2 linked regions of the Homo sapiens genome follow. The protein of the gene in region 1 interacts with the protein of each later gene in a biochemical or structural test. Each region holds a gene or a part of one and is shown on either strand. Other genes may lie near its edges.

Evidence for each region.
Region 2: the proteins of UBXN2B (region 1) and PPP1R3A form a complex in vitro, tested with the Homo sapiens proteins (one study listed by BioGRID).

The regions. Positions count from the first base shown.
Region 1 is NC_000008.11:58,449,319-58,452,275, forward strand, and holds the end of UBXN2B (UBX domain-containing protein 2B), read left to right. Parts: 3' UTR 1-2,183; downstream 2,184-2,957. UniProt on the Homo sapiens protein: Adapter protein required for Golgi and endoplasmic reticulum biogenesis. Involved in Golgi and endoplasmic reticulum maintenance during interphase and in their reassembly at the end of mitosis.
Region 2 is NC_000007.14:113,915,730-113,923,140, reverse strand, and holds the start of PPP1R3A (protein phosphatase 1 regulatory subunit 3A), read left to right. Parts: upstream 1-4,131; 5' UTR 4,132-4,144; coding exon 4,145-4,926; intron 4,927-7,411. UniProt on the Homo sapiens protein: Seems to act as a glycogen-targeting subunit for PP1. PP1 is essential for cell division, and participates in the regulation of glycogen metabolism, muscle contractility and protein synthesis.

The sequences.
Region 1 (2,957 bases):
ACTCCTGTGTTAAAGATTCAGATTCATCACAAATAAATTTACATCACTCATAGGTGCTCAAAAGTCACAATCCATTATTACAGCATCAACTCTAAATCCAAAATCTTATCTGAGTCTCACCAACTCAAAAGTCTCAAATCTCACATTGAAGCCATCTAAATTAAGTTTGGGAGAGGATCTGTGTGTGATTTCTGGGACATAATTCCAACTGTGCACTTGTGAACCTAGAAAACAAGTTATCTGTTCCCAAGTATGATGGCATGACAGGCAGACAATAATAGTTACACACGTTCCTGTTCAAAAAGCAGAAACAGATGGAAAAAGGAGCCATCAGCACCAATCAATTTACAAAACCAGCGAGGCACCCTTCTTTAAGTTTCAAGGCCTGGGAGTAATCTTCAGCTCACTGCTGTTCTCTGGGCTTGTTGACTGTCTCAGAGTCATCTTTACTTTTTCACAAAAGGTAGCACACGTTTGCAGCTGAGTATCAACTTATCAGTTTGTTCTTCTTTTATATTCTCTAAAGCTTTCTGTTAAAAATGGTGGTGCTTCTGCTGCTATAACGTTGTCAAGAAACTTGTGGGTCTTTTACATATGTCACAGGGATGCACTCATTTAGATAGGAGGCTCCTCACGTATCTTTCCTGGAAAATCCTGTCTCTGTTTTTGGCTTTTTCTGAAATAGCTGAGAGGATCTATGATTCACACCCTTAATATCTTCAAAGAGTCTTGTGTGTGACCTGATATTCAGACCTTTTGATGTTTCTGAAGTATTAGCAAAAGGTTATACAGCCATATCTTCATCACTTTCTCTAGAGTAAAGGCTGTCCTGACGGTGAATCTTAGTTTTAGTGGCTTTTGCCATTTGAATAGGCCGCGAATTTCCCAAATCATCAAGTCCTGGTTTCTTTATATTTAACAGGTCTTCCCTCAATCTACCTCTTTCCACATTTTACTATAATCAGCAAGAAGACAGCAGGCTGTACCTTCCACAGCTTGCTTGGAAATATCCTCAGCTAAATATTGAAGTCATCACTTAAAAGTTCTGCTTTACACATAACGGCAGGACACAACTCAGCTTAGCTTTTCGCCACTATGTAACAAGGACTCCTTTCCTCCACTTCTCCAGTAACATATTCCTCATTTTTTACCAACAGTCTATTCATGATGATTTAGATATTCTATGGCAATCGAGGTATTCTCTATTATGCTCCTTTCTTCAAGGCCGCCCTAGCATTAACATTCCATATTTCTACTAACAGTCTGTTTAAGGCAGTTTAGCTTCTTTTCTGGCATGCTCCTCAGAATTCTTCCAGCCTCCACCTACTGCCCAATTCCAGAGCCACTTTTCTACTTTTAGGTATTTGTTACAGCAGCACCTCAAGTACCTAGAAAACTCTTTTATGCCTGCTTCTCTGCCAGATGACTTGAATATGGTACTAGATTTGGAATTCACCTTTCTCCAGGGTCACTGTTTATTTCAAAGAGGTGAATTTACCTGTGCTAGGGTTTTCACACTGGGAGTGCTACCAGAACTACCACAGGATGAAAGTGGTGAGCCCACCACTGCAGAGAAGTTTTCTCAGTGCCGTAATATAGAGGAATTCTCAAAATAAGCCCTACTCCTTTTCACTTACTGAAAACAACTTGGATAATGTGTAACAGCCAGCCCCATTTCAAAAAGATTACCAGGGGTAAAACAACTTTTTCATGGGTCAAAATCATCTTCCGAAGAAAATGATTTCTTAAAAGAATTGAACATTGTAAATCAAAGGGCATTGTCCTGTTTTGGATTAACAAAACAGGAAAAATAACCAATCCTTGTAAAATTATTTGAAATTTTCTTGTTTTTATCAGTTGAGTGCCTATAGATGCACATACAAAAACAACTGCCATTTTTGTATATAATAGTCTTCCAAGATAGAGATTTACATTAGGAGAGAATTAAACATCCAGGAGGGATGAACAGTATTTCATGTGTGCTATGTAGTGTTTTGCTTCATTGAGAGTCATTTTCATGAATTATTTTTACTACTGCAGTCATCTTAAATTTATAATCATCTCAAAAAAGATGTCACAATGAACAGACAACCATCTGTGAGGTCAGTCATTTTGCATGATGTATGTAATCAAAAAGTTTGAAATGTCTGCTTACTAATAAAGAATGTTTTCACTGAAACTTATTGGAAAGGTTTTTCAAATTTTCTTTGATTTGTAGTTTTGAGTCCTGAATAGATTGTTTTAACATGAATAACATTTCCTGTGGTTTAATTTCCCTTGGCGCACCTTTGTCAGGGACAGGGAAGGAACTGGTTGTAGCATATTATCTGAATATCCTGTTACTGTTTCTGTTTTTATTCTACCCAAATAAAAAGGTTCAGGTGCTTCTTTTTTGCCACAATGGATTTCTGAAAACCTTGTCACAACTGTGAAAGGAAAGCAAATCTTGGGACCCCAGAATCACTAAGCTAAAGGGAAAAGTCAAGCTGGAAACTGCTTAGTGCAAACCTGCCTCCCATTCATTCTATTCAGTTATCTCTGCTCACTGAGATAAAGGCCTGTCTGATTGCCTCCTTTGGAAGGGCTCATCAGAAACTCAAAAGAATGCAACCATTTGTCTCTTACCTACCTGTGCCCTGGAAGTCCTCTCCCACACTTCGAGTTGTCCTACCTTTCCATATTGATCCAATGTCCATCTTACATATATTGATTGATGTCTTATGTCTCCCTAAAATGTATAAAACCAAGCTGTGCCCCAACCACCTTGGGCTCATGTCATCAGGACGTCCTGAGGCTGTGTCACACCTGTGCATCCTTAACCTTGGCAAAATAAACTTCCTAAATCGAGACCTGTCTCAGGTATTTGGGGTTCATGCAACGTCTATTGTTAAAAAGTGCATCATGTTGAAGCGGCCTTGTCTGGGGCGACACCCGAGGTTCGTTGTCTCACAGCCACA
Region 2 (7,411 bases), on another chromosome or scaffold:
TGGGACTACAGGTGCACACCACCATGCCCAGCTAATTTTTGTATTTTTGGTACAGACGGGGTTTCACCATGTTGGCCAGGATGGTCTCGATCTCTTGACCTTGTGATCCACCCGCCTTGGCCTCCCAAAGTGCTGGGATTACAGGCATGAGCCATTGCGCCCAGCCGGAGATCACGCATCTTAACCAAGTCTATATATCAGAATCACTTGTGAACCATCATCCTCTTGGAAAATCTTATTTGAACATCTCTCCCAGTGATTTTTGACATCTATCTCTGGTTTTAAAGACTACAGTTCTAGACTGTCTCTTGACAAAACGTTTCTTTGGGTTGCAAAAATCTATGCTAACATGGGAAACAAATGCAAAATCATAATTAATTTCAAAATAGATCATTTCTTTCCTACCCATTTGTGGATAAACACAATCTCTCTTATTTTTGATTCTCACTGGATCAGAGCTGATCAGACCTTAGATATTTAACTTTTTTTCTTGAACCCATGACAGTAGAAGATCAGGTAATAGAAACTCAGTTGGCATTGAGATACAGTATGTATAAATAAAGAGGAACACACATATGTATTTTAAGTTATATATGTATATATGTTATATACATATTTGCATATATTTCATACCTCATATCTTCTGTTTGCTCCTCCAAATCCACTTGCCACCCTTTCCACCATTTTCCTCCCTGTTTTCTGCTGCGGGAGACTGACCTGAATGAACTATAATAGTTCCCATGCCCTCTGGCCAATAGGTAGCTCTGGTAGGACATCATAAAAAGGGAGAAGAATGAATTCAGTTTATTATGCTCCCGGATCACTCCTGGCAAAGTCGTCTTCAACTGGCTGTGTCCTTTGACCAGGTCTCCAGTTGGTAAGCTCTTTATGGCACGCTTTGCTTTCAAGTTCTGATAAGTGTTCCCTTCCCTTATCCCTTGAAGGATGGTAAAAGCTCTGATGCAATTGACCCCAGTTTGTCACACTAGTTCTTGTGGCTTCTCTGCCTTTACACTTTATAAATAGACCCTTGTAAATAAATCCTCCTGAAATTATCTTATTTGAGCATGCCATCTATTTCCTATTTACTGGGTTCCTGACTGATACTGTTTTTTATGTTAATGGTGCCTTTGAGAATATTTGATTAATACCAAAAATTATGGAATGCATGGAGACTTGAGCTTTAGTTTGTAAAAAAAAAAAAAAAAAAAAAAAAGAAGGAAAGAAAAAGCTTTAATTCTTCTAAAAACAGTATACCTTAGCAGCTGAAGAAGAGTGTGATAAATTGTGTTGAAATTGAGGTAGTGGTGGATATGAGAAAATGGGACATTGGTCTGATCTGTGATATGGAAATAAAGCAAGGAAATGTGAATTTTAACTGAATGCAAACACCAAGTCACAAGGCTGAGGCTGTTAGTATTTCTTTTCATGCTCCAGAGACACTTGATCTATAATATTGCATTCATCTGGGGGCAGCTCATTAACAGAAAAATACAGGCAAGCTGGAAGGAGTTCATAGAGGAGTAACAAAATGGTAAAAAGCACTGGAGGATTGACATGTGGGAAGAGATTAAAAAGATGAAATCACTCTGCTTTAGCTAAGTGGTGACTAAGGGGGAACATGTCAACTGTCTACAATTATGTGAAGGTTATAAATTCCAAAAGAAAGGCAGTGATTACTACAAATCAAGGTAGTGCTCTGTGTAAAGAGACACATTAACAAGGGAAAAGTTTAGATCAAATAACAGGACCATTTTCTAATGTAGAGCTATATTATGTCTTATAAAGCTAAGTGTTACACACTATAGCCTTTGAAAAAGACAAAAATGAAACAAATTACAAATCATTTCTTAATGATATATATGAATTCTCTGTAGCTAGATAGATTACATATCTATCCATCTATCTGTTGATATACCTTAGAAATCAGCCTTTTACAAACATATATCGGAATTGAAATAGTGACTGGTGCTATTACTATAGGTTTTGTGCTAGACATTTAACAAGAATCTTGTTTAATTTTAAACATTGTACTTTGACAATTAAGGCAACTGTGGGTTAGAACATCTGAGTAACATTCGGAAGGTCATCCAGCTAGTAAGCAGCAGAGCCAGGAAATGGACCCAGGGGTCTTCATTTCCATTCCTTTGCTAACTAACTCCTGGATAGTTAAAATATTTCAGTACATTATTATATCTTAAATTTTCATTATCCCATTATTTACATGGCTATATGAACTATTTTACTAATTTCCATAAAGCATTTTGTTGCTGATTTCCTTGACTACATAGCAATGTATTTCAGGTACCTTGAAATATAGCTACTTGTAGTCATCAAATCTGAAAGGCACAGACATTTCCGCAGCCATTACCCATTCTTGAGCAATCCATGTGGTCACCACCCATTCTAGCTATGTGGATGAGATAAAGCTCAAATAATTTCATTTCTTTATCCTTCTAGACACTAGTCACTTATAATTTTAGAAAATAATTTCTCCATCCACTACTTTATGCAATTCAAATTACCTAATAAGTTATACCATATTAATGAGGTTTTCATTTGAAAGAAATTATGCTATTGGGCTCTTTATAAAAAGAAAAACTAATCACCTTTCACACTTCGTATATTTTTTCAGTTTAATTAATAGATATTTTGAAAGAAAACCATGCTCATGTATAATATTTCAAACAGTACAGCAGACCATAAAGTAAAATGAATAGAGCCCCCATTCCTCTGCCATCTTTAAATTCTGTGGTTAGAAGTAAATACTGCTAACATTGTCTTTTGTATCCTTTCAGGAGTTTTCTATGTACATATCTGTACACATTTTCTTTTTTATCACTTAGCCATTTATCTTGGTTATCTTTCCATATTAGCACATAAAGTGCTACTTTATCCTTCTAAAACATTCTATTGTATGGGTTATTTATCCAATGCTCTTTCGAGAGGGACATTTAACAGGTTTGTAGAGACTGTTAAACGCACAATTCTGTTATGAACATAGATCTCTATTTATCTTTGTATACTTTCCCATACTGACAGAGCAAATTTCTAGCTGGGGCATTTCTCGGTCAAATTGTGTGCAGTTAAATTTTTATAGGTTTTTACCAAAATGACCATCCCCCAACTTGGGTTTTATGACATAAAAAAAACGTGACAGTTTAAGCAGGCTGTTCATACTTTAAAACTCATATTGAATTTCAAGGTGTGATGGTATCAACTTCTGCTTTGTGGGCATAAAATGGCCATTTGCAAAAGAACATTTTATTCTACGTAGATGTATTAGTCCTGGATCAGGCTTACCTTTGCCCACTTATATTTGTAAATCAATAACATGTCTTATCTGTATTTTCCCATGGCTTAATTAAAATAAATGTACTAATGTTTAAAATAATGAATTTGATTACTTCTTTGTTCTAGGCTTTTGCTTGGGTTATTTCTTCTACCTGGACAATCTGCCTTGCTCCAACCTTGCATGTCTAAATTCCACCTACCCTTCATGCTTTATTTAAAATGATACCTTCCCCATCTGAATCATGTTTCCTTCCTCAGAACTTTCAGCACCTCTATTTAACCCTTTTGTAATAAAGCTATACATTTATAAATCCCTGAAAATGATAGCTGTCATTATTAGTAGGCTCTGGATCTCTTCAGTTCTATAAATGTTCTTATCTTTCCCTGTTTGCACTTACCTGCTCCATGGATTAATTTAGTCCAAACTACATATTCAGTATTGTGATACTACTTTTATTTTATTTAAAAAAAATCCACATTTTCATTTTTAACATCAACTAATTAAAATAATATTTTTATCCTAAAGTTCCAGGATTTCCAATACAGCAGAACATGATTTAAAAATATCTGTTTGGAACTTAGCTCATAAACAAATACAGCTTTAAAAACTGCCAGTTAAATCTGAAACATACTGGTGGGAGTAGCATGGATGCTATCATATGCAAGGCCTTTAGGGGGAGGCTAGCAGGGTTGCAGGCTAGCATAGTTGACACGCCATTGGACCTATTTATAGAGCTGAGTTCTTTTTGCAATGTCAACTGTAACATTATACCTATTTTAAGCCTCAGTATCTCAAATGTCAGCCTCTACTAGTCGTACAGTTCTCTCTTATTTGATATCAGAGAGCCCAATGGAGCCTTCTGAAGTACCTAGTCAGATTAGCAAAGATAATTTTTTAGAAGTTCCTAATTTATCTGACTCTCTTTGTGAAGATGAAGAAGTTACTTTCCAACCTGGTTTCTCCCCTCAACCAAGTAGACGAGGTTCTGATTCTTCTGAAGACATATACCTGGATACCCCATCTTCAGGTACTAGAAGAGTTTCATTTGCTGATTCCTTTGGATTCAATCTTGTGTCTGTTAAAGAATTTGATTGCTGGGAATTACCGAGTGCTTCAACCACTTTTGACTTAGGGACGGACATTTTCCACACAGAAGAATATGTTTTAGCCCCACTGTTTGACTTGCCTTCTTCAAAAGAAGATCTTATGCAACAACTCCAAATACAGAAAGCAATACTGGAGTCAACTGAGTCTCTTCTTGGGTCTACAAGTATCAAGGGTATTATTCGAGTTTTGAATGTTTCTTTTGAGAAGTTAGTATATGTAAGAATGTCTTTAGATGACTGGCAGACACATTATGACATTTTAGCAGAATATGTTCCTAATTCATGTGATGGTGAAACTGACCAGTTCTCCTTTAAGATTGTATTGGTTCCTCCTTATCAAAAAGATGGCAGTAAAGTTGAGTTTTGTATACGTTATGAAACTTCTGTTGGTACATTTTGGTCAAATAATAATGGCACAAATTATACATTCATTTGTCAAAAGAAAGAACAAGAGCCGGAGCCTGTAAAACCATGGAAAGAAGTTCCTAACAGACAAATAAAAGGCTGCTTAAAGGTAAAATCAAGGTGAGGATATATCTTACATATTTTATTATTCACAATCTTAAAGTTTTTATGTCATTCTTTATTTCATGTGTTGTAAGAAAGTGACTCTATTTAAAAATATACTGCTTGCTATGTAAAAAACAATGGTGCCAGGCTTTAACAAGGTCAAAGCTATTCAAATAATAGCACTGTGTAACCCTTTCTACAAATGTGAGAAAAAATATGGCTGTAATGCAATAGGTTGGGAGAGAAGTGCACTGTGTATATTACTTGCCTAATGAGTTATAAATTATTCCTGCTCAAACCATGAAATCTAGATTATTCACATATAAAATTATTTACTTTGACATTTAAAGTACTTTTATTTTCAGTCGTTTTTAAATGTCTATGCTTTCCTTTGAAACAGTTTTGATTAACATAAAACTATATTTCAATATGTATCTAGTTCTCAGAAATTTGTAAACTTCTCCCAAAAGCTGCAAAGAACTTCTTCATAACTGTTTTGAGTTATACAGGGATGTTTGAAGTGATACATGTTAATTTAAATTATAAAAGAAATGACCTTAATGATTAACAGAAAGACATAAGTATATCAGTGATATATGAGTTACACACAAAATTTCATTAATTATAACCAAGAATAACATTATGGAACACAAATTAGTATAATTTAGTAAAAGTCAATGGAGCAGAACAAAAAATGACCCAAATATAAATAGGGATATTCAGCTATATAGATTAGAGATTTGGGATGTGACCCCTCATTAGTAACCTTACTCTCTTGTTAATGTGAAAAATAAGAAAAACTGGCATTCAGCTGTCTCGATAGTACATAGCTGGCTAATTTCTGTGACACTAGGTAAGTAGAGAAAACATTCAGGAGAAGTGAGACCCCTTCTGCTCCTCAGTATCCCAGAGGGAAAGTCTACATTGCTCCAGCCACAGGCAAATGTTTGATCATCCTCTGAGTGGTCCATCTTAACTGTCCCTAAACCCAAGGATTTTGGTAACTGTACCAGAAATAGTGTAATGTAGGAAATAGGAAATATAGGAAATAGGAAAGGGAACTGTTTTGGAATCAAGACACCCAGATTTAATTCTCTAAGGGGAATTTAATACAAAGCATAAGATACGATATTGGGAAATTTTTTTAAAAATTGTGCTTTAAACGATAAATAATAACTACTAAATGCATTGTTCCAATGTATTAATAAACTAAATGCAGTATAGATGGAAGCAATTCAAACATATATATTATGTTTATTTTCATTTTCCTTTAAAGTCATCTGAAATATTGGCTTAATCAACTTTGTGAATTAGGCCAACTTTCTTGGTCTAAATCAAACTTTCTTTGATTTTAACTGATGCTGTTAGGAAAGAGAGTATAATAATCTCTACATAGGCTAAAATAATAATTTAGATGTTTATGAAATTACTCTAACACATTAGCTACACTAACAAAATAAGTTCAACATTATTTAGCAAACTAATTTATATGCATAATATATACATATTAAATACTTTAGAAATGAGATAAGCATTAGTGAATATCTGTTAAACACACTGCAACTTGCTCTATATGTTAGAGAAACCAAAATTTAGAAAAGGCGCAGCATTATTGTCTAAAAGCTCATAAAAGAGGCAGTGTTGAACTCAGCGGATTTTTCTGCAATTTAATGCAGTTTTAAAATTCAAGCAATACCTGCTGAACTGTGGTTTGGATAGGGGATTCCTTTGATTCCTTTGATATGCCAAACTTGACTGATACCAAGGCAAAGACTAGCCAACTGATAGGCCTCATCTTCTACCTTGGTCATAATATTTTTGGAACTTCTCCTAGTTGAAGATATGTAGAACTATATGTATCCACACATACATTTGTATTCAGAACAGTAATCATTGGATTCACAGCGGACACCATTCAAGTTTTAATATTGCTTTGGGGAAAAACCTGAGAAGAACTAAACCACAAAATGGTCTGAAGGCCTGTAAAGTTTCCTAATGAGTTATAAAAATGGAAAAAATCTCTCTCCCTCAAAACCACAAATACATTTTCTGCACTTCTGTAACTTAAAAATGACCAACATAATTCGAACCACATTTTGAAAAAAGCATTTGCCTCTGGAGGAGGCATTTTGTGCTGAATTTCAGTCCAACATGAATTTTTACATCTGATTTATATACCACTCAAAATGGAGTGTATAAAGGAAATCCTGACAGATCCTTAGAACAGCATGTGCCATAATAGAATATTTATACAGCTTTTCCATGATATAATTTATATGCAATGGGGTTTCAAATATTCCTAAAACTCACACAAGAGAGCATTATCAAATTTCTAAATGAATATTGCAGTTGGATTTTATTGTGAAGAGTTTGGTTAGAGAAAAATAGCACACCTTATCGGTGTTATTTTACAAAATGTGTACTTGACTAAAATAAAAATGAACTAATACTTATTTGATCAAAAATTATAGCTACTAAAATCTCTTCTCTCCAAATAGTT